Linked DNA regions of Homo sapiens: all the other regions are linked to region 1. A link means that fine-mapping ties the variant in region 1 to the expression of a gene that starts in the linked region. Tissue or cell type: whole blood. Region 1 holds a variant in brackets; each other region holds the start of a gene. Each region is shown on its reference strand, or each on the opposite one. Region 1 overlaps LPP (LIM domain containing preferred translocation partner in lipoma). Region 2 holds the start of SIGLEC12 (sialic acid binding Ig like lectin 12). Region 3 holds the start of CYBB (cytochrome b-245 beta chain). Region 4 holds the start of BATF3 (basic leucine zipper ATF-like transcription factor 3).

Region 1 (5,017 bases):
CAAGCAGCAACAATATAACTGGCTTGAGAGACTGGTGACCCCTAGACAGAGATGTTACTTTTCTTAATGGGTAAGTTAAGAATCTCTTCGAGGGTCTGATGGTGTTGTGAATGCTTTCCCTAAAAAAGACATACACGCAGACTAAGTTTAAATACAATTTCAGGAGACTGGCTTAATCCAAAATATGAATCTCAAAAACGAATGGAACCCAAAATAAAATCCCTAATTAAATTAATTTTTCTGAGATTGTGTAGTTAATAATCCCTAAAATCTCTCTGTAGCAACTGACATTTTGGAAAATTAATTTCTTTAATTAATAAAAATCAATAGTTTCTTTCTGAAATGTTCATTTACATTTTAACTGTACTTATAGTTCAATAGTAAAAACACTACTTTTCAAAGAGATAATATAAACATGAATCATTTTTTGCCACATTGACAAAGTTCAAGTAAAGTAATTCTACTTCTAACAAAGGTGTAATGCAAATTCAAAAAAGGAATCATAATTCTAGCAAGGACAAACATACACCAAGCCAATTCTAAAATCTCTATTAGCAAATACAAAAAGAAACAAGGATACAACTAAGATTATTTTTTAAATGGTCAGCATGAGCTATATGGGATTTTATAATTAAAATTTTATAATCAGAATTTTTTAAAAAAAACTATGGATAGAACCCTCAGAGCTAATGTTCATATTTTCATTTCAATAATAATAGCAAGAACAATGATTGCAGCTTCCACTGATTTTGTCATTATTTTGTCATGACTTAACTTTGAAAACAACTCTTTAAGATACAAATATCTCTATTTCATTTATTCATATATTTATTTATTATTTTTATTTATTCATTTATTTGAGATGGAGTCTTACTCTGACGCCTAGGCTGGAATGGAATGCAGTGGCTTACAGCAACCTCCACCTTCTGTGTTCAAGTGATTCGCCTGCCTCAGTCTCCCAAGTAGCTGGGATTACAGGTGTGTGCCACCACGCCCGGCTAATTTTTGTATTTTTAGTAAAGTCGGGGTTTTGCCATGTTGGCCAGACTGGTCTTGAACTCCTGATCTCAGGTGATCCACCCTTGGCCTCCCAAAGTGCTGGGATTACAGGCGTGAGCCACCACGCCTAGTGCATAACTATCTCTATTTTAAAACTGAAAGAACTTAGGTTGCCACTTATCCTGGTGAGTCCAAGTTTCCAGAGAATTAAGAGGTAAAATCAAAACTCGAAACCCAGATCTATCTGATGCCAGAGTCTACAAGCTTAACCACTGCCTCCCTGAGTCTTTCTTCTCTGTAACCTTCCAATACTACCTTGGCTCCAAGCAAACTCTTTCTTCTGATAGAGTTAGCCATGGAGTCACTTCACAAATAGAAGCTGTACAGTAAAGCTTTATATTGTTAGTTAACTGGGCATTTTCATATGTTGAATTTCTAATGAAAATATAAACTGTTTAAGGGCTAAGACGTGTTTTTACTTTTTCCTGTCCACTACAGAGCCTGGTTAAGTAACAATGGCACAAGATGGAAGTGAATAGGACCCAGTAAAAGAACGGAATTTAATGCAGATGTCAAGATATAAAACAGTGAAATCTTATCTACCAGGAATCACATTGGGTGGCATTCATGACACTTTACTCTCACCTCAAGTGGTGATATTTCTGGGAGACCTCATAGAACTTGGAGATTTCTTTCCCAGGAGGTAATTTTTACAGAGGATGCCCTTACTAAAACCCAAGTCATTACAACATTAACAGATCAATAATAAAAATAATGACGAATTAAAATGCCATTTCTATAGAACGGTAAAAAATAAAATAAAATGTCATTTTAATTCCATTGTAATGTCAATAAAACTACCCCTGATATCTGAAAAGTTTAAGCAAGATGACACAATTCAACTGAACTAAGGAAAATTCCAAATGGTTATTCCAAAGGTCTTGTCAAATAATGTCGCCTTGAGACACTATTTGAGAAACTTGGTAATAACTTCTTGAGACTACTTTGGCTGTTTTATATTTGTATACATCATAGACATCCATGCACAGGAGATTGATTTTAAGCAATTTTCACACATTATTTGGATGACCTTAACCTTCAAATCGCTCTGGATAGTAATAATTCGGGAAAATAATGATGGAAAAATTATTTCATTTAATACAAGTAATAATGGCATTAACATGAGATACAGTGTACTGCTGAGGAACAGCTACAGACTTGGATTTAGGAGACAAGGGTTCAATTCCCAGCTTTGCAATATGCTAGTTATTTCACTTTACATACATTATACTTGGCAGATTGAGGGTGATAATAACTTTTTTACAGAGTAGCTAGAAAGATAAAGTAAGCAGTAAAGCAAAGTGGACTTCAGATGAAATGGAAGCTAATAAATCCACTACAATATTTTTCAAATAGTTAAGATACTGTTCTGCCAGATAAGTTGTTTTAGTAATTGTAATAATTCATTATTACCAAATAGTGTTTATCGTACATTACCAATACTTAAGGGAAGATACTAAAATTTGGTCAAATGTGACTTCTACATTTATTAGCCTAACCTTGGGTCTCTGAATCACAGATTTTTCATTTGTCTTTAGGAACCATAATAATGTAGGAACTATAATAACGTTGCAGGATATTCTGGTGATTAAACTAGATATTATGTGAGAAAGTGCTCTAAAATTTATTCACATTTGTGCACACTCATACAAACACATTTTAAAATTACAAGTTGTAATGAACATTTC[A/T]CAATAAAATCCTTCTTTCATTGCTTCCTGTTTTCTCAGGATTACCCCAACGTGTGAACAAGTAAGAGAGCAAAACAAAACAAAAAATGATTAAGTTAGCTTACAACTCCATTCTTAAGCGTGTGTGTTTGACTAGGTAAAAAAAGCTGCCTGAAATTATTTCAGGAGATTTAAAGAGAATTGCCTTTTGCTTTTTCTTTCTTGCCTTAGCATTTGTATGCACAGGCACATTTCATTCTAAAATATAACAGACAAGTGCAGAGAGATAGCAATAGTACTTCTGGCCAGTACCTCCAGGAAAGTACTTCTTGCCTGTGGTATAAGATCATATTTCTTGGTCCTTCCTCTCTGAAGCTACCTAACTTCCTGGAGCTATTTCTAGAGGTAAGTTTCAGAGCACGCTAGAACATTTAGGTCTACCCATAGTGAAGTCACTCTGTTCACATTGCAAAGCTATTCCCAGGAGCCCAGATGCATTGCCTGAGGACATCAGCAAAGAGCTGCCAAAATTACAAGGGTCAGGATGGGGGCCATTCTCTGCTTTTGCACATGCTGTTCCCTTTACTTGGCATGCCATGCTGTCCACCACCCTTTTCTGCTTGGTAAACAACTAACTCATTCTCCAACACTCAGATCAGATGTGTCCTCGTCTGTGATGCTTTCCCCAGTTCCTCCTAGAGGACATCCTTCATATTATATTACGGCACTAAATTTACATAATGCAATTTTTATGCACATGTGGTGCCTGTTATATGTCTATCTTGACTAGTAGACTTATCTATTCTGTTTGAAGACAGCGACATACAGAACAATGTAAAGAACATATAATAAGGGAGAGTGCTGGAAGAGCAAACTGCTAGAAGACTCAGGATGCCACATCCCAATGACCTATACTCCTCTGCCCCAGGTGCTGTCCTCAGCCATCAGGTCTCTCTGAATGCAGTAATTTTAAGAAAGGATGATAAAAATATCATACTGATTTTTTTTAAGTTCTTTAGGTTAATCGTTATTCTAGGGTATGATTTCTTTATATGGTATATTTGCCCAAAGGCTCAGGTGTCAGATTTATTTTTATAATGTCCATAATGAATCCATTTTTAGATAATTTACATAGGCCTACTGTGACCCAAAATTGGCTGAGATTTCAGGCATTGCTACCCAAAGCAACACAATAGCAAGAGCTCTGTAATGCAGAAGCTTGTCCATGGCTAGGGCATTCTCGAAGAATCCATTTTTTTGTTGTTGTTTGAAATTTTCTGGTTTTGGATCCCAAATAAAATGACCCAGGACAACATATGCAAACGATTGGTGTCTATAATGAAAGCACTGAGGGAAAAGAATAGCAACATGAAAGATGCTCTAGGTCTCTGAATCTGTACAATGTTCACAAGATAAAGACTCTCAAGACTTCAAAAGCTACCATCATTAACTACGGGAGGAAGAGTACACTCTCAGGACTTGGAGAAGGTTCAAAGGAGATTAAGGCACTGGTCCCTGAAGTTAATGAAATAAATGAGTGGTTCCCAAACGTTGGTTGAGCATCAATCACAATTCCCGGGAAGTTCTGTTTTATTTTTTATTTTGCTTTGTTTTAATGCAGATTCCTGGGCCCCATGGCCAGATATTTTGATTCTGTAAAATTGTGATGGGACCTAGGACTTGCTTTAATTTTTTTCTTTTGAAAAATGTTCTCCAAGTCTTTCTGATGACTGGCCAGCTTTGAAAACCACAGGTTTAAGCCATACATTTTGGCAGGGATACATATAGCAGTGATCTTTCAAAGTATCATGCAAGCAATTCAGATGGCATGTAAGATAGCACTTTGAGTAAGAGAAGAATACATTAAGATATCTATATGCATTCCTTTATTTTACTATTATTAATTTTTTTTTAAATATGGACTCATAGAAAGTTGCAAAAATAGTACAGAGTTTCCATGTACATTTTACCCAGGTTCCCTAAATGGTAATGCTCATAAAGCTGTAATACATTCGAAAACCCAGCAAACTGACATTGTTACCTTATTGTTAACTAGGAGTTACTCAGTTTTTACCATTTTATAACCTGCATTGATTTGTGTGTGCATACAGTTCTATGTAACTTTATCCCATGTATAGATTCATGTAATCATCACTCCAATTGAGGTACAGATCTGTTCCACCCATACAAAGACTCTTGCTGCGTCCTCTTTGTAGGAATGACCAGTACTTGCCCCCCCCCGACCCACCCATTTCTGTCCCCTAGCAATCATGAATATGTCCTTTATCTCT
Region 2 (4,000 bases), not on the chromosome of region 1:
TTGCCAACTGGGGACTGTGGGAAAGAGATGGGCCGTGGTCGAGCCCTTCTTCCCATTGAGATGCTGCAACTGTCCTTACGGGAAGAAAGTGACACGGCAAGGATGGGGGCCCAGGAGCAGATTGGTCTGCAGGATGAGATACAAGCTGCAAATGCAGGAATTAGTGGTGTCAGGGAGAGGAGCAGCTATGCATGCCCCAATCCTGCACATTTCCTTTTCAATTATCACAGCCAACTGACTCTACTCCAGGTTATGGGCAATTGGGGACAACATGGGGATGGGAAGATCCATGGAGCTGAGTAAAATAAAACAGATTGTGGTTTTTATGTAAAAATAGTCTTTAGAAAAACCTATGCAAAGCCATAGTATTGAAGGCAGTGCACTCAGATGATAAAACTACATAGAAAAGCAAGGAGACCATTATCATTAAAGTGAGGCTGGGGCATCTTCAGGAGGAACTGCATGTGGCCTATAGGAAGGGGAAACACAGGGCTGAATAAATGAATGCAATTTCTTTCTTCATCTCATGGGAGAAATTTGGCAATTATCTTGTGATGTTCTATTTCTTGAACAGTGATAATTTGGTGAAAATCACTGAGTCATTTTTTTAGGTGGCACTTTTATTTACTTGTATTACATTTCCCCAAAAATCATTGTTTCAAGAAAAGCTGACATGGGTCTAAGGAGGGCGAATCTTGCAGGATTTTCCCCACCTTCCTCCCAGTACATAGCATACAGTTTCAAAAACTCTTCTGCTGAATTCAGGTGCATTTCTTCTCCCATGAAATCCTGTCCATCATTGAGCGTGGACACGCCAGGGCTGGTGTCCTCGCTCCACGTCTCCTGTTCACCTGAAACCCTGGGAGCAGAGCCTGCAGGAACAAAGGGCCAGCAGACCCCTCATGCTCTGGAGTAAGGAGGACTTGTGAGAGAGCAGTGGTGAAGGATCCCATCCTGAACCCAGAGAGCCATGGCCGAGAGAGAAACGCCTGCCCCTTTAGAAATCTGTCCCTTCCCATCCAACATTCCTCCCTTCCAGACCTCACTGTACAACAGTCACAGCCTTAGCTTCTCAGGCCTCCTGTGAACTGGGCTCTTCTCTGTGTCTTTGGTGTGTATCAACACACGGAATCCTCACCTCCACGACCCCGTGTCTCTCTGCTCAGTCCTCCCGAGACTGATTCCCCAACATAGGAGAGAGCGACCACACCCTGCCTGGTACCCCCACTGAAGCTCCTGCCATGGAGAGCTCAGATATCAGGAGCCTCAGTGTCTCCCCACTACACAGTGACTCTTTGGGGACAGTGTCTAGCTCTGCTGTGTTGAACTCCACCTCACGGCCGCTGAGGGAGGAAGGAGAGGTTGCCTGCTCATCCCACCTGCACCCCCATCTCTTATATCCTAGTGTCACCTCTGACCTACAGAGAGACATCCACAGCCTGTACTTCATAGGTCTGGCCACATGGGACTCATTTTCACCTTATGGAAAATATCACCCAAGGGGAAGGGCACTGAGAGGGAGGCAGTGGGCGGGGTGGGCCCTGCATGGGGTTGGAATCTGGGTGAGTCTTTCATCCTCTCTGGCCTCAGGGTCCCCAGGAGTGGACGGGGTAGTGGACGGTGGATCTTCCAGGGGTGACCCGGCCCTGACAGTGTCTGTGTGTGAAGTTCCTCCTGTGAGGTCACCGTTCAGAACCCACCCCCAACTTCCTGTGCGGCTTCCTCGAAATCTTGAGTTCTCAGTTCCTGAGAGAAGAACCCTGAGGAACAGACTTACCTCAGCAACCCTGGCACCTCCAACCCGACACATGCTACTGCTGCTGCTACTGCTGCCACCCCTGCTCTGTGGGAGAGTGGGGGCTAAGGAACAGAAGGATTACCTGCTGACAATGCAGAAGTCCGTGACGGTGCAGGAGGGCCTGTGTGTCTCTGTGCTTTGCTCCTTCTCCTACCCCCAAAATGGCTGGACTGCCTCCGATCCAGTTCATGGCTACTGGTTCCGGGCAGGGGACCATGTAAGCCGGAACATTCCAGTGGCCACAAACAACCCAGCTCGAGCAGTGCAGGAGGAGACTCGGGACCGATTCCACCTCCTTGGGGACCCACAGAACAAGGATTGTACCCTGAGCATCAGAGACACCAGAGAGAGTGATGCAGGGACATACGTCTTTTGTGTAGAGAGAGGAAATATGAAATGGAATTATAAATATGACCAGCTCTCTGTGAATGTGACAGGTAAGGCACGGGCTCCAAGAGAGGCCAAAGGCAAATGTGATGAGGGCTTTAGGGCACGGCTGAGACGGGACACATGTCCTGGGAGGGGGCCGGGGGTGATGGACTCAGGGGAGGAGCTGGACCAGAGCCTGAGCTTCCCCAGGACCGCACCTTGGATGCCCCTCCTGATCCTGCAAGCCCCTCCCCTCACCAGCCCTGACCCACAGGCCTGACATCCTCATCCTGCCTCTGACGCTGGCACTGTGGCATGTGGGGCCTTATGACTCCTTGTTTTGGGGCCTGTCCTAGGCATGGCCGGGGTTTAGCACCATCCCAGGCCTCTCCCCACCAGATGCCAGAAGCACCCACCCCACCCATGCAGCGAGACAATTATCTCCACACATTGTCAAACGTCCTGGGGGGTTAAGTCCTCCCCAGTTGAGAGCCTTAGGTCTACACAACCCCGTGACTCTCTCAGGCCAGGCCAGGGAGGAAGCACTTCCTGGCGCAAACCAAGGGCAGCAGAGGCACCTGAGCCTGGACAGGGAGACTCAGCACACGGCCCCTCCATCTCTCATGCCCCGAGGTCCTCGGAGATCCACATTTAGATGCTCAAAAGACAGGAGGGACCTCCACGATGGTCCAGAGGCCGGGAGGGCAGGACCTACGTGTCTGGTGCAGGCCCTGGTGCTTCAGGGAAGCCCGGAGGTAGGAGGCGGGACACGGTCTCTTCTCCTCCCTGGGTGGGTCTCTAGGGTCTCTGAGCTTTAGGGTTTCCTTCACTCTGTGCAGAGGGAATGAGTTCCTATAGCATGTGGGTTTGCAGTTTCTCTTCCATGCAGGGCTGAGGTCTCCAGCTCCTCTCCAGCCCCCTGTGGGTCCCACAGCCCTGCCCCTCCTCTCCCTCCCCCTTCTCTGCTCACACAGGGAGCCCAGGAAGCCTCTGCCTCAGAGATGCTGCTGCCCCTGCTATGGGCAAATGAAGAGAGGGACAGTGGGGGCTGGGCTGACCCTCGTTTCTCCACAGCGTCCCAGGACCTACTGTCAAGATACAGGCTGGAGGTGCCAGAGTCGGTGACTGTGCAGGAGGGTCTGTGTGTCTCTGTGCCCTGCAGTGTCCTTTACCCCCATTACAACTGGACTGCCTCTAGCCCTGTTTATGGATCCTGGTTCAAGGAAGGGGCCGATATACCATGGGATATTCCAGTGGCCACAAACACCCCAAGTGGAAAAGTGCAAGAGGATACCCACGGTCGATTCCTCCTCCTTGGGGACCCACAGACCAACAACTGCTCCCTGAGCATCAGAGATGCCAGGAAGGGGGATTCAGGGAAGTACTACTTCCAGGTGGAGAGAGGAAGCAGGAAATGGAACTACATATATGACAAGCTCTCTGTGCATGTGACAGGTAAATCTCTGGCTCTAGGACCAGCCAGAGGGGAAGGCCCGAGGGCCGCAGGGTAGGGCTGAGGTGGGACCCCCATCCTGGGAGGGAGTTGGAGGTGAAGCATATCTGGCTCAGGGGAGGAGTAAGACCAGAGCCTGAGCCTCCTCAGCACCACACTTCAGACCCCAACACCCTCATTTTGCCTGTCTCCCTTTCATCACCAGCCCTGACTCACATGCCCACCTTCTCCATCCCGGGGACCCTGGAGTCTGGCCACCCCAGGAACCTGACCTGCTCTGTGCCCTGGGCCTGTGAACAGGGGACGCCCCCCACGATCACCTGGATGGGGGCCTCCGTGTCCTCCCTGGACCCCACTATCACTCGCTCCTCGATGCTCAG
Region 3 (5,017 bases), not on the chromosome of region 1:
ATTTATTTATGATTTATAATACTTATAATAATTAATATTAAGCAATTAATTCATAGTTTCAGCATGATGTAACAGATGTCTTCTGGAGGCAAGAGGCCTGACAGTTCAAGGAAACTCAGAATACTAAAGGACCCAAGGAAACTGAAGGGCCTTCACTCTACTGTCCTAGTCAACAGATGTGGCCCTTGAGCAAGTTCCTCGAGTCTTTATATGTAGAGAGAGATTTATTTTCTGAAGATCATTTCATAACATGTGATTAGGAGCAGAGCTCTTCATGCAAAAAAGTACTAGGAATTAGGTGACTTAGAAAATATGGAAAGTCCCACTTGTCCCACATGTGTCACTCCTGGATGGATTGCTCCAACCTGCCCTTCCATTTCAGAGTGAGTATTAGATTTCTCCTTTAAGCTAAACAATGGCACATGGTTCTTGGTTGGGGAAGGATGCCACTGGGGCCCTCTGCCCCACTTTTGTTGGTCCCAGACTGGAAGGCTTTAAGTGACTGTTGCCCAGGAAGTTGCAATGGAGGGAGTGAGGCTAATGGTACTGTTTGGGTTGGTCAGAATATGTATTTAAAATGCTAACAGGAAGATGAACAAGAATGTCTGATGAGAAATGTGAACCAGCCAATATTGCATGGGATGGAATTTATACTTACCCCAAGAAGTTTTCTTGTGTAAAAGAACTTAGGTGGAATATCATAAACCCGGTAATACCAGACAAAGAGGAAGACGTTCAACCCCAGCCAAACCAGCTGCACAAACAGAAATAATTGCATGAAGTTTCCGCATTTCCACAGTAGATTCCACACAAGACTGGAGTCAGATAAGGGTCAGGACTTCCCCAAGTCCAACTTTGACAAAGGTAGTGACAAAGCTGGATATAACCAGCTTAGAGCCAGCTCTTTCCTCAACAGTGTCACTACACTTGTCTATAATTAAAACCTCTCCACCCTGTGTTGTTCCCCATGATTGTTTTATGATTTGGCCAGTATACCAAATTATCAGTCTTACATTACCCCACTCCCTTTTTTTCCCCTCTCTTTTGCTTAACCTTGGATAGGTAGCTGATAGCAGGCCACTCCACTTAAAATGAGAAAGGAAGGGAACATATTACTATTGCTTTCCCTCCACCAGTATGACACTGCGTTCTGTTCTCACAGGTGCTAATCACCTCCCTCTACCACACAGTAATCCAGCTAGTGAATTCTCATCAGCTAAAATGCCAAGCCTTCCATTTTCCTTGATTAGTTTTACTTAATGCTTCAAGGAGAGAATATTGAGCATAGTGAGGGGCTTGGGATTTACAACAAAAACAGCTTTCTAGATCATGACAGTTCATTTTATCCTAAGCACTGACTGGATCAAGTGGTCACACTACCCAGTTCTCTACCTTCAGCTCCATAGTGATCTTTTCTCAACTATGCTTTGAAGCTATTATATGCTCTAGACACTTGATAATATTCTCTCTTTACAAAGAAAAAAGTGCTAAAGCAACTTCCCAATTTCCTGATCTTGTCATTCTTTCTTTACTCTGACTTTCCAAGCTGTGTTTTCACTTTCAAGTGCATGAGTATATAATTTAGAAGGAGGTCATTTCCTGGGAAAAATTGTGGCGAGAGCTAAAAGTTTAATTTGAACTTACTTTCTATAGAAATTATTTGCCCTTAAAAATGGTGATAAGAAGTTAAGTTTACAGCTTCGAATACTCGGAAGAATTCTCTGTTGCAGTAGAATGTTGGTTTGGCGTAAACATTTTTTATAACAAAATATTTGTTGTTTTTATTTGTGCCACTAATTGCTTTCTATATTTAAAACTCAAAGACTCATTATTTTTCATGATAAATTTTTACAAAAGCTCCATTCATATTCCATTCATAATTGTACTTTTTAACATCTGTGTAATGCTTCTATTGGTTATTTAGAAAGGCTATTTAAAAATCGTATTTCTATCTACCCAATTTGTCCATTATTGCTTTGCTGATAACACCATTTTAAGAGAACAGTTGATTTTCTTTGTTTTAAAAAGTACAGAAATCATTCTGTCCACTTGTAAATTAGCTATATCTTTACTTACATAGTTTCTCCAGACTATATTGATTTATATATATATACAATTATATATAAATATACATACTACATATTTATGAATCTAGATGACTTATTTCAATTCTGTTCTTTTGAATTTTTATAAATCTTATAAATAACTCAAGTTTAGATCTCTGAAAAAAGAAGGTACTTGTTTTTGAAAATAAATTTGAGAAGTTTTATTATATTTAGTGTAATTACTGAAATAAAGGCCTACTTCCCATACATGAGTCAATCTTATATTTTTTATTTAGAAAATGGTATAAAATTTCAATTTGTCATTTTTAAAGTAGTATAAACACATAGACATGTGCGTCTGAGTAAACATTACTAAACAACTCAGAATCAGAGATCATTAGCATGAAATATTTTCTACTCCTTCTGCGAAATGCTGGCTAATTTATTCCTCCTAGGAATTCAGAAGTAAGCTAGAAGTGAGCCCCCAGATATGTTCTTTCCATTAAGGAATTTGGAAGAATGGACTCAGTCTGTTTACAGATAGATATAGGTTCACATGGTAAATCAGTTTCAACACAATTCCTCAAATGAACAAAAAAGCTTTGGTCTATTTTAGTTCCAAGATAACCCCGAGAAGTCAGAGAATTTATAACTTATCTCTTGTTGGTACTTACAATGACAAAAATGGAGAGCCCCTCATTCACAGCCCAGTTCCCCATGGTGGCAGAGGTTGAATGTGTTGTGTTTGCCTTTCTTCTATACTATGCTTCTTCTTCCAATGAGGAAATGAAAACAGCAGCCCTGGGGCAATCGGTTTCCTTTTCTTTTATCAGAAATTGGCTAATAATCATTGGTCAACTGAAAAGCTTGCATCCATAACAAACTTAAATCTTTAAACCTCAACAACTACAAAAAAAGGGTCTATAATGATCCAGTCACAATTAAACATAGTGGAAAATGAAACCAATTTCTACAACTAAGAGATAAATAACAGTGCATTTTAAGGGATGTATTTTACACAGTGAAATAACTTTTTAACTAACCAGCTATTTGATCACAATTTTTAAGCCACTCAACTAGACATGACTTCGTGCTGGGTAAAACACATTAAACAGGTGTGATTTTGACAGGCTGGAACAGCATTCATAGCCTTGCTGAGAAAAGTAGTAACAATTGTAATGGTTGATATTTACAAAATGCTTAATATGTGCCAATTTTATGTGCTATATATGTCTATATATGTGTGTGTGTATGTTCATGTATAGCTATCATATATATATATATATATATATATATATATATATATATAATTTGAAACATACATATATAAATACAGATGCTTTGGCCAATGATGAACCACATGTATGACAGTGGTCCCATAAGATTATAATGGTGTTGGCCAGGCACGGTGGCTCACGCCTGTAATCCCAGCACTTTGAGAGGCTGAGTGGGGTGGATCACTTGAGGTCAGGAGTTTGGGACCAATCTGGCCAACATGGTGAAACCCCGTCTCTACTAAAAATACAAAAATTAGCTGGGCATGGTGGTGGGCACCTGTAGTCCCAGCTACTCAGGAGGCTGAGGCAGGAGAATCACTTGAACCTGGGAGTCAGGTTGCAGTGAGCCGAGATTGTGTCATTGCACCCCAGCCTGGGCGACAGAGCAAGACTCCATCTCTCTCTCTCTCTCTCTCTCTCTCTCTCTCTATATATATATATATATATATACATATATATATAATATATAATATAATATATAATATATATACTTGTGTGTGTGTGCTGAAAAATTCCTACCATCTAGTGACATTGTAGCATAACACATTACTCATGTGTTTGTGGCAATGCTGGTGTAAACAAACCTACTGAGCTGCCAGTTGTAAAAGTATAGCACATACAATTATGTACATTACATAGTACTTGATAGTAAAAATAGATGACTATGTTACTGGTTCATTTATTTACTAGACTATACTTTTAATCATTATTTTAGAGTATACTCCTACTTATAAAAAAGTTAACTGTAAAAGAATCTCAGGCAGGTCCTTCAGAAGGTATTCCAGAAGAATGCATTGCTGTCATAGATGACAGCTTCATGCATGTTAGTGCCCTTGAAGACTGTCCAGTGGGGCAAAATGTGGAGGTGGAAGACAGTGATATTAATGATCCTGACTTTGTGTGGGCCTAGGCTAATGTGTATGTTTGTGTCTTAGCTTTTAACAAAAATGTTTTAAAGGTAAAATATAAAAATAAAAAATTTAAAAACAGAATAAAGCTTCTAGATATGGATATTAAAACATTTTTGTACAGCTGTAAAATTTTTTTTGTTTTAAGCTTAGGGTTATTACAAAAGAGTCAAGAAATTAAAAAAGCAAAAGTTTATAAATAAAAAGTTACAGTAAGCTAAATTTATTTCATTATTGAAAAAACAAAATGTTTTGCATATTTAGTATAGCCTAAGTGTACAGTGTTCATAAAATCTATAGGAGTGTACAAAAATGTTCTAGGCCTTCCTATCCATTCACCACTCACTCACTGACACATAGAGTAACTTCTAGTTCTCCAAGCTCTACTCATGGTAAGTGCCTTATACAGGTGTACCATTTTTAATCTTTTATACTTTATTTTTATTGTCTATTTTCTATGGTTAACTATGGTTAGATACCATTGTGTTAGAATCTCTGACAGTATTCAGTACAATAAAAAACGATAAGGTTTGTAGCCTAGCAGCCATAGGCTATACCATGTAGCCTAGGCGTGTAGTAGACTATACCATCAGGTTTATGTAAATACACTCTATGATTTTCACACAACAACAAAATCACCTAAGGATACATTTCTCAGAACAAATCCCCCATAGTTAAGTGATATGACTGCATATATGTGTGTATTACACATATAGACACACATGCAAACACACACACATCAATTCATTTGATCCTCACAACTCAACCACTGTAAAGCAGATTCTAT
Region 4 (5,017 bases), not on the chromosome of region 1:
TGATGTTTCTAGGATGATTTTCTAGCAGTAGGAAAATTGAGTCAAAAGTGATGACTCTTTTATGGTTCTTGAAAGTGACAGTAAAACTGCTTTCCAGCAGGTTTGTGCCAATTTACAATGAAGCCAGTGAAACATGTGAGTACCAATTTCACCATACTCTCCCCAGCATTTGATATTACTTTTTATTTTGCTAACTTAAAAAGGGTTCTTATTTTAATATATATTTTCCTATACCTATTTTCCTTGATTATTTCTTCTGCTGGGAAATGCCATTTCATATCCCTTCTGCAATTTACCTTTGCGGGTTGTCTCAATATTCTTCTTCTTCTTTTTCGTGGGCTGTATATTAACCCTTTCTCATATGCACTGTATTTATCCAATCTGTTTGTTTTACATTCCTGGTTATACTGTCATCTAAAACAATTTAGCCCTTTTATATAGTTCAGATCTTATCAAGTCAATTTCTCCTATTACATGTATTCTTATAAGATCCTTTCCTTATCTTATCTCCACAACTTTATTTTATTTATTTGAGATAAGGTCTTGCTCTGTTGCCCTGGAGGCTGGAGTGCAGTGGTGCAATCATAGCTCATTGCAGCCTCAAACTCCTGAGCTTAAGTGATCCTCCTGCCTCAGCGTCCTGAGTAGCTGGGACTACAGGTGTGCACCACCACACTCAGCTAGTTGATTTCTTTTAATTTTTGGTAGAGTTGGGGGTCTCACTATGTTGCCTATGCTTCCATGACTTAAATAAGAATTTAATTCTGCTTTAGCTCTCTGATTTTCATTTCTGTATCTAGCTATTTAATCCATTCATTTTGATGTATGATCTTTACATCAAATTGATCTCTGCCCTAAATGCTACCTAGTTAACCAAGACTAAATGTATTTGAAGAAACCCTTGCGTAACACAAGACAGTAGACTATGCCTATATAAAGAGTTCGTGTGTGCTGGGACATGGTTTCAGGCTCCCTGGGGAGAGACAGGGAAGCAGCAGCCCCAAAGGACTTAAAATGTGATGTGGTTCAGTGAGAAAAGTGGGCATGACCAGAATAAAGTGTAGGAGTGCACGGGAATGTTCCCGAGGTGTTTCTACCTTGCCTTTTCTGTGCATAAAAAACACTGGGGAATGAAATCACTTCTGAAAATGATAACCCCTTGACCCAGATGTTTTCCTAGCTCGTTAGAGCCCTTTTAGTGCTTCAGGAATGAGAGCTTTCAGCTGACCTAGTGCAATACATATACTGAGCACCTGTTGAGTGTATGTAGCGTGCTATGCTAGGCACCTTGTGTGGGTACCTTGTGGGATGCAAAATAGTCCTGGGGCAACCACCAGTTAAGCTGAGTGATGAAATAACGGAGAGGAAAAGATTAATCCGGGCAGATAACCCAGCGTAGCGCTGGCTCTGCTGCGCAGCCTTGCTGCTGTGGAGTGTGGCGCTGCAACTCTAAAGGGCTGCGTCCACCCTCCGTCTTCCTCCCCGCCTCTCAGTTGGCCGAAGCTTCTGATCACACAGACAAGAATCTCCGCTCGCTTTCCCGCTGGCCTCCAGGCAGCCAAGTTCACTCAAGCTCTCTCAAAGCTTTTGCAAGAGTGGGTCTTAAATCCTGGCGGGGGGCACGTGCACTCATTTAAGACTTAAAAAGGAATCGGAAATGACTGTCCCCATGCCCACTGCTGCCCACAAACCTGAAGACCCAAGCGACCACACTTGGTAGGCACTTCTGCCCTTCTGGTCTGGTTCCCACCCGCCCATCCCGAATCGCGGTTATCTTTCCCGGTGCTCACAGCATGCAGACCACAGCCTGTGGCCGCTAGTGTTTCCTTCGCTAGGACCACGGGTAATTGTCTTGGCTTCGCATCTTTTGACTGGCAGGCAGGTGGACAGGGACTTGCCCTACCTCAACCCGGTCCCCAGCTTGGCACGAGCAGATAAATCTTGAAAAAGAAAAATGATCTGGGCCGTTTAACCGTGGCATGGCGGGTCCAGATCCCCAAACCTGTCACTAGTGACGTCCCACGTGGCAGATTCGCTCTCAGGGAAGCCCGTCACCGTTTTTGTCCGGGACATCCTCCCCATGCCCACCCTCCGCTCCGGGAATTCACCCTCGGGGCCGCCCCGCCTCGTTCCCTCCCACAGCCCGGCGGACCCGAGACGGGAAGGGCAGGCACTCCCTGCAGAGTCCCTGGGGCGCCCGTGGCTCGGGGTGCGCGGTGGGACTCGGTGAAGCCGGCGTCTTCACCCCAGAGCCGCGGCTTCGGGGCCGCTGGAGGAGCGAGAGTGGCGCCCGGATGACTGATCGCCGCGGAGAAAGTCCCCCGGGACTGTGACCCCCGCGCCGGGGGGCGGACGCAGGGCGTGGCTGAGGCGCAGGAAGATGCCGCGATGGGACCGGGAAAAAACACCGACCCCAAAACACCCACTGTGTTTCTCAACCTGAGTTCCCCGGCAGCCGCCGAAGGACCCCAAAGGCTGCATGGCGCCCCCCTGGTCCCCACCCCCCCGGGCGTCGCCTCGCGTGGGTGGGCTTCGCGTTCCCTCCGGGGTTTCAGAGCCACCACGTGACTTCCACGAAGCGCGGGGCGCCGGCGGAAAGCCGCGGCAGGGGTGGGATTTGGGACCCCGAGGTGCGGAGAGAGGGCGGGCAGAGGAGGAAACGAGGCGGGGGTGGGAGAAGGAGGGCGGGGCAGACGTGGGACGGGAAGGACGGCTGCCGGGACTGGCGCGCGGGGACACTGGGCCGACGCGTGGAGTAGCGGGGAGAGCGGGAAGCCTGAGGGGGCGGGGCCGGCGCGAGGCCGTGGGTGCGGCACGAGGATGCCGGCGGCGGGACAGCGCCCGTAGGCAGCCCCACGGGCAGGGCGCGCGGGCGGGGCGGGGCGGGCCGGGCCAGAGGAGCGCCCGGCATGTCGCAAGGGCTCCCGGCCGCCGGCAGCGTCCTGCAGAGGAGCGTCGCGGCGCCCGGGAACCAGCCGCAGCCGCAGCCGCAGCAGCAGGTAGAGGGCGAGAGGCTCAGGGAGGGCCGTGGGGTGCGGGGACCGGCGCGCCGCGGGGGGCGAGGAGGTGGGTGCTGGAGTTCCGTGGTGGTGACTGCGGAGGTGCAGAGGTGGCGGGTGCGGCCGGAGACAAGCAGAGGTAGGGGCGTAGGGATGTTGGGGAATGGGGGCGATCCAGGGACCCTGTCGTGCGCACAGTGTCCGCGGCTCCTGGAATGGCTCCTGAGCCAGCTCCTGCGCCCTCTGGGGGAAGAAGCCCGAGGGCGCCGACGCCTGGCTGGGCCGGGCATGGCCGGTGCTCCCCGGCACGTGGGCTCCGCACTGCCCTGAGGGCCGCCCCATCCTGGCGCAGCCAGCGACTGCCACCCCACCACCCGCGCCTGTAGCCCCTCCAGGATTCCCCCGGGTGGGGGGGGTGCTGCCGCGGGAATGGAGAACGCCGGACTAGTCAGCCTGGGCGGAGGGAACCCACAAAGGGCCGACTCCGCCCCCAGCTGGTGGAAACCCTTTGCCCCTTCCCAGTTCGCTGTCCCCTAGCAACGTTTACAGCGGCGCAGTCAGGAAGGAGACCAGGTTGGCCACAGGGACGGCCGTCTGGAAACTTTGCCTGGGTCTTGGCCACCTGCCTTACGACGAAGACTGGGTCTTTTCATCCTTACTCCCCACCTTCCCAATTCAGCGCCCGGCCCATGTCATCAGGTGTCGCTGGAGTGTCACAGAGATCTGAGTTTGGGCCTGGGCTTTGCCACACACAGGCTGAGCAGCCTTGAGCAATTTGTTTAACCTCTCGGACCGTCCATTTCCCCATCTGTAAAATGAATATAGTAACATCAACCTCTCAGGATTTTTGAGACTGAATCAGATATGGTTAATAACATAATACTATCTCTAACTTTCGCTCACCTCTTTCTGTCTTGATTAAATGTTTCTGCTGGGTTGGCAGGTGTGATCATGGTGATGAGTCCAGTTTAGAGTCAGCTCCCCGAGGGCAGTATGCAGGCTGCTTTCTTGTGCTAGTGACTTTTTGATTACAGAGAGCAAAGAGGCATGAGAAGCACTATGCAGAATACATTTTTTTTTAAAGTAGCAACTTCAACAAAGGCAGGTAACTTCTTGAGGGCATACTGTATGCTGGGAGCTTTAGGACAAAATCTCATTTCATCGCATCCCAATCCTAAGCATTAGGCTGTTAGCACCAAGTCTGCAGAGTTCACTGACCCTTTGTTTAGGGCTTGTATCCCCAGTGTCTAGAACAGTGTCTGGCACATGGTAGGTGCTCAGTTAATACATATTGAAAGAATGAATGAATTATGCTTACAATAAATGAGAAAACTGAAAATTTAGAGAATTTAAACCATTTACACAAGACCATGTTGACACTAAGAGACAAAACTAGGATCTGTGTGATTCTAAAGCTAAAGAGCTGTCTTCTAACCACATGTTCCCCTGTAATGTTCTGGTTTTGTTTATCAAGACTTCTTTGCCTCTCTAGAAGACTGTATTATCATACTTTGTTCCCTTAAGCTTCTATTTGCTATGTATGTTATTTATTCCTCTCCTTTTTATGCCTTTATATTCTTGCATATCTGAAACTTCTTACCTGCAGTAACTTGGGAAGATGTGTGTCTTATGTGGAATACAAGATGAGATCAAATGATAACTGAAAATATCCTTTTTTGTGTTATTAATATTTGCATTCCGTGAATATTAATAACTGAGTAGTTTTCCTTGTTTGTACCTCTTGGCTCTTAAACTCTGTAAGTGTGGTATTTTTCCCGCTTGGTGGTGTCTTCTCATGGGGTTCTAGAAAGCAAATACTGCTCTCCTTTTTCATGTTTTCTATAGCTGATTGAAGTGTTTTTACCATGGTCAGTGCATTTTTCCGCCTGCCTGTTTCATGATCACTATTGAGGGATTTGACTGAATTTGGTTAAATCTTACATATAGCTAACAGCTTTCAAGACACATAAAAAATTTGCTGACTTCTGAAACAAAATGTCAGCCAAGCATTGTTCAAA

The links.
Region 2: SIGLEC12 starts here. The variant in region 1 is fine-mapped to the expression of SIGLEC12 in whole blood (TOPMed, PIP 0.97).
Region 3: it holds the start of CYBB, and the variant in region 1 is fine-mapped to the expression of CYBB in whole blood (TOPMed, PIP above 0.99).
Region 4: BATF3 starts here. The variant in region 1 is fine-mapped to the expression of BATF3 in whole blood (TOPMed, PIP above 0.99).

Annotation. Positions count from the first base shown.
Region 1 is chr3:188,415,726-188,420,742 of GRCh38, reverse strand. The region is part of intron 4 of LPP (LIM domain containing preferred translocation partner in lipoma); the gene reads right to left. Among named protein-coding and RNA genes, the nearest start is that of LPP-AS1, 150 kb to the left of the region's middle. The variant A/T (reference allele first, on the strand shown) is at 2,748.
Region 2 is chr19:51,499,542-51,503,541 of GRCh38, reverse strand. SIGLEC12 (sialic acid binding Ig like lectin 12) reads left to right here and starts at 1,742. Exons shown (of 8, transcript NM_053003.4): 1 at 1,742-2,235; 2 at 3,242-3,622; 3 at 3,826-4,000. The coding sequence starts at 1,809. RefSeq lists an enhancer at 3,480-3,979.
Region 3 is chrX:37,777,825-37,782,841 of GRCh38, reverse strand. It overlaps CYBB (cytochrome b-245 beta chain), which reads right to left and starts at 2,783. Exons shown (of 13, transcript NM_000397.4): 1 at 2,720-2,783; 2 at 659-754. The coding sequence starts at 2,764. RefSeq lists an enhancer at 2,692-2,741.
Region 4 is chr1:212,697,655-212,702,671 of GRCh38, reverse strand. It overlaps BATF3 (basic leucine zipper ATF-like transcription factor 3), which reads left to right and starts at 2,832. Exons shown (of 3, transcript NM_018664.3): 1 at 2,832-2,999. The coding sequence starts at 2,910. RefSeq lists silencers at 2,815-2,894, 3,085-3,534.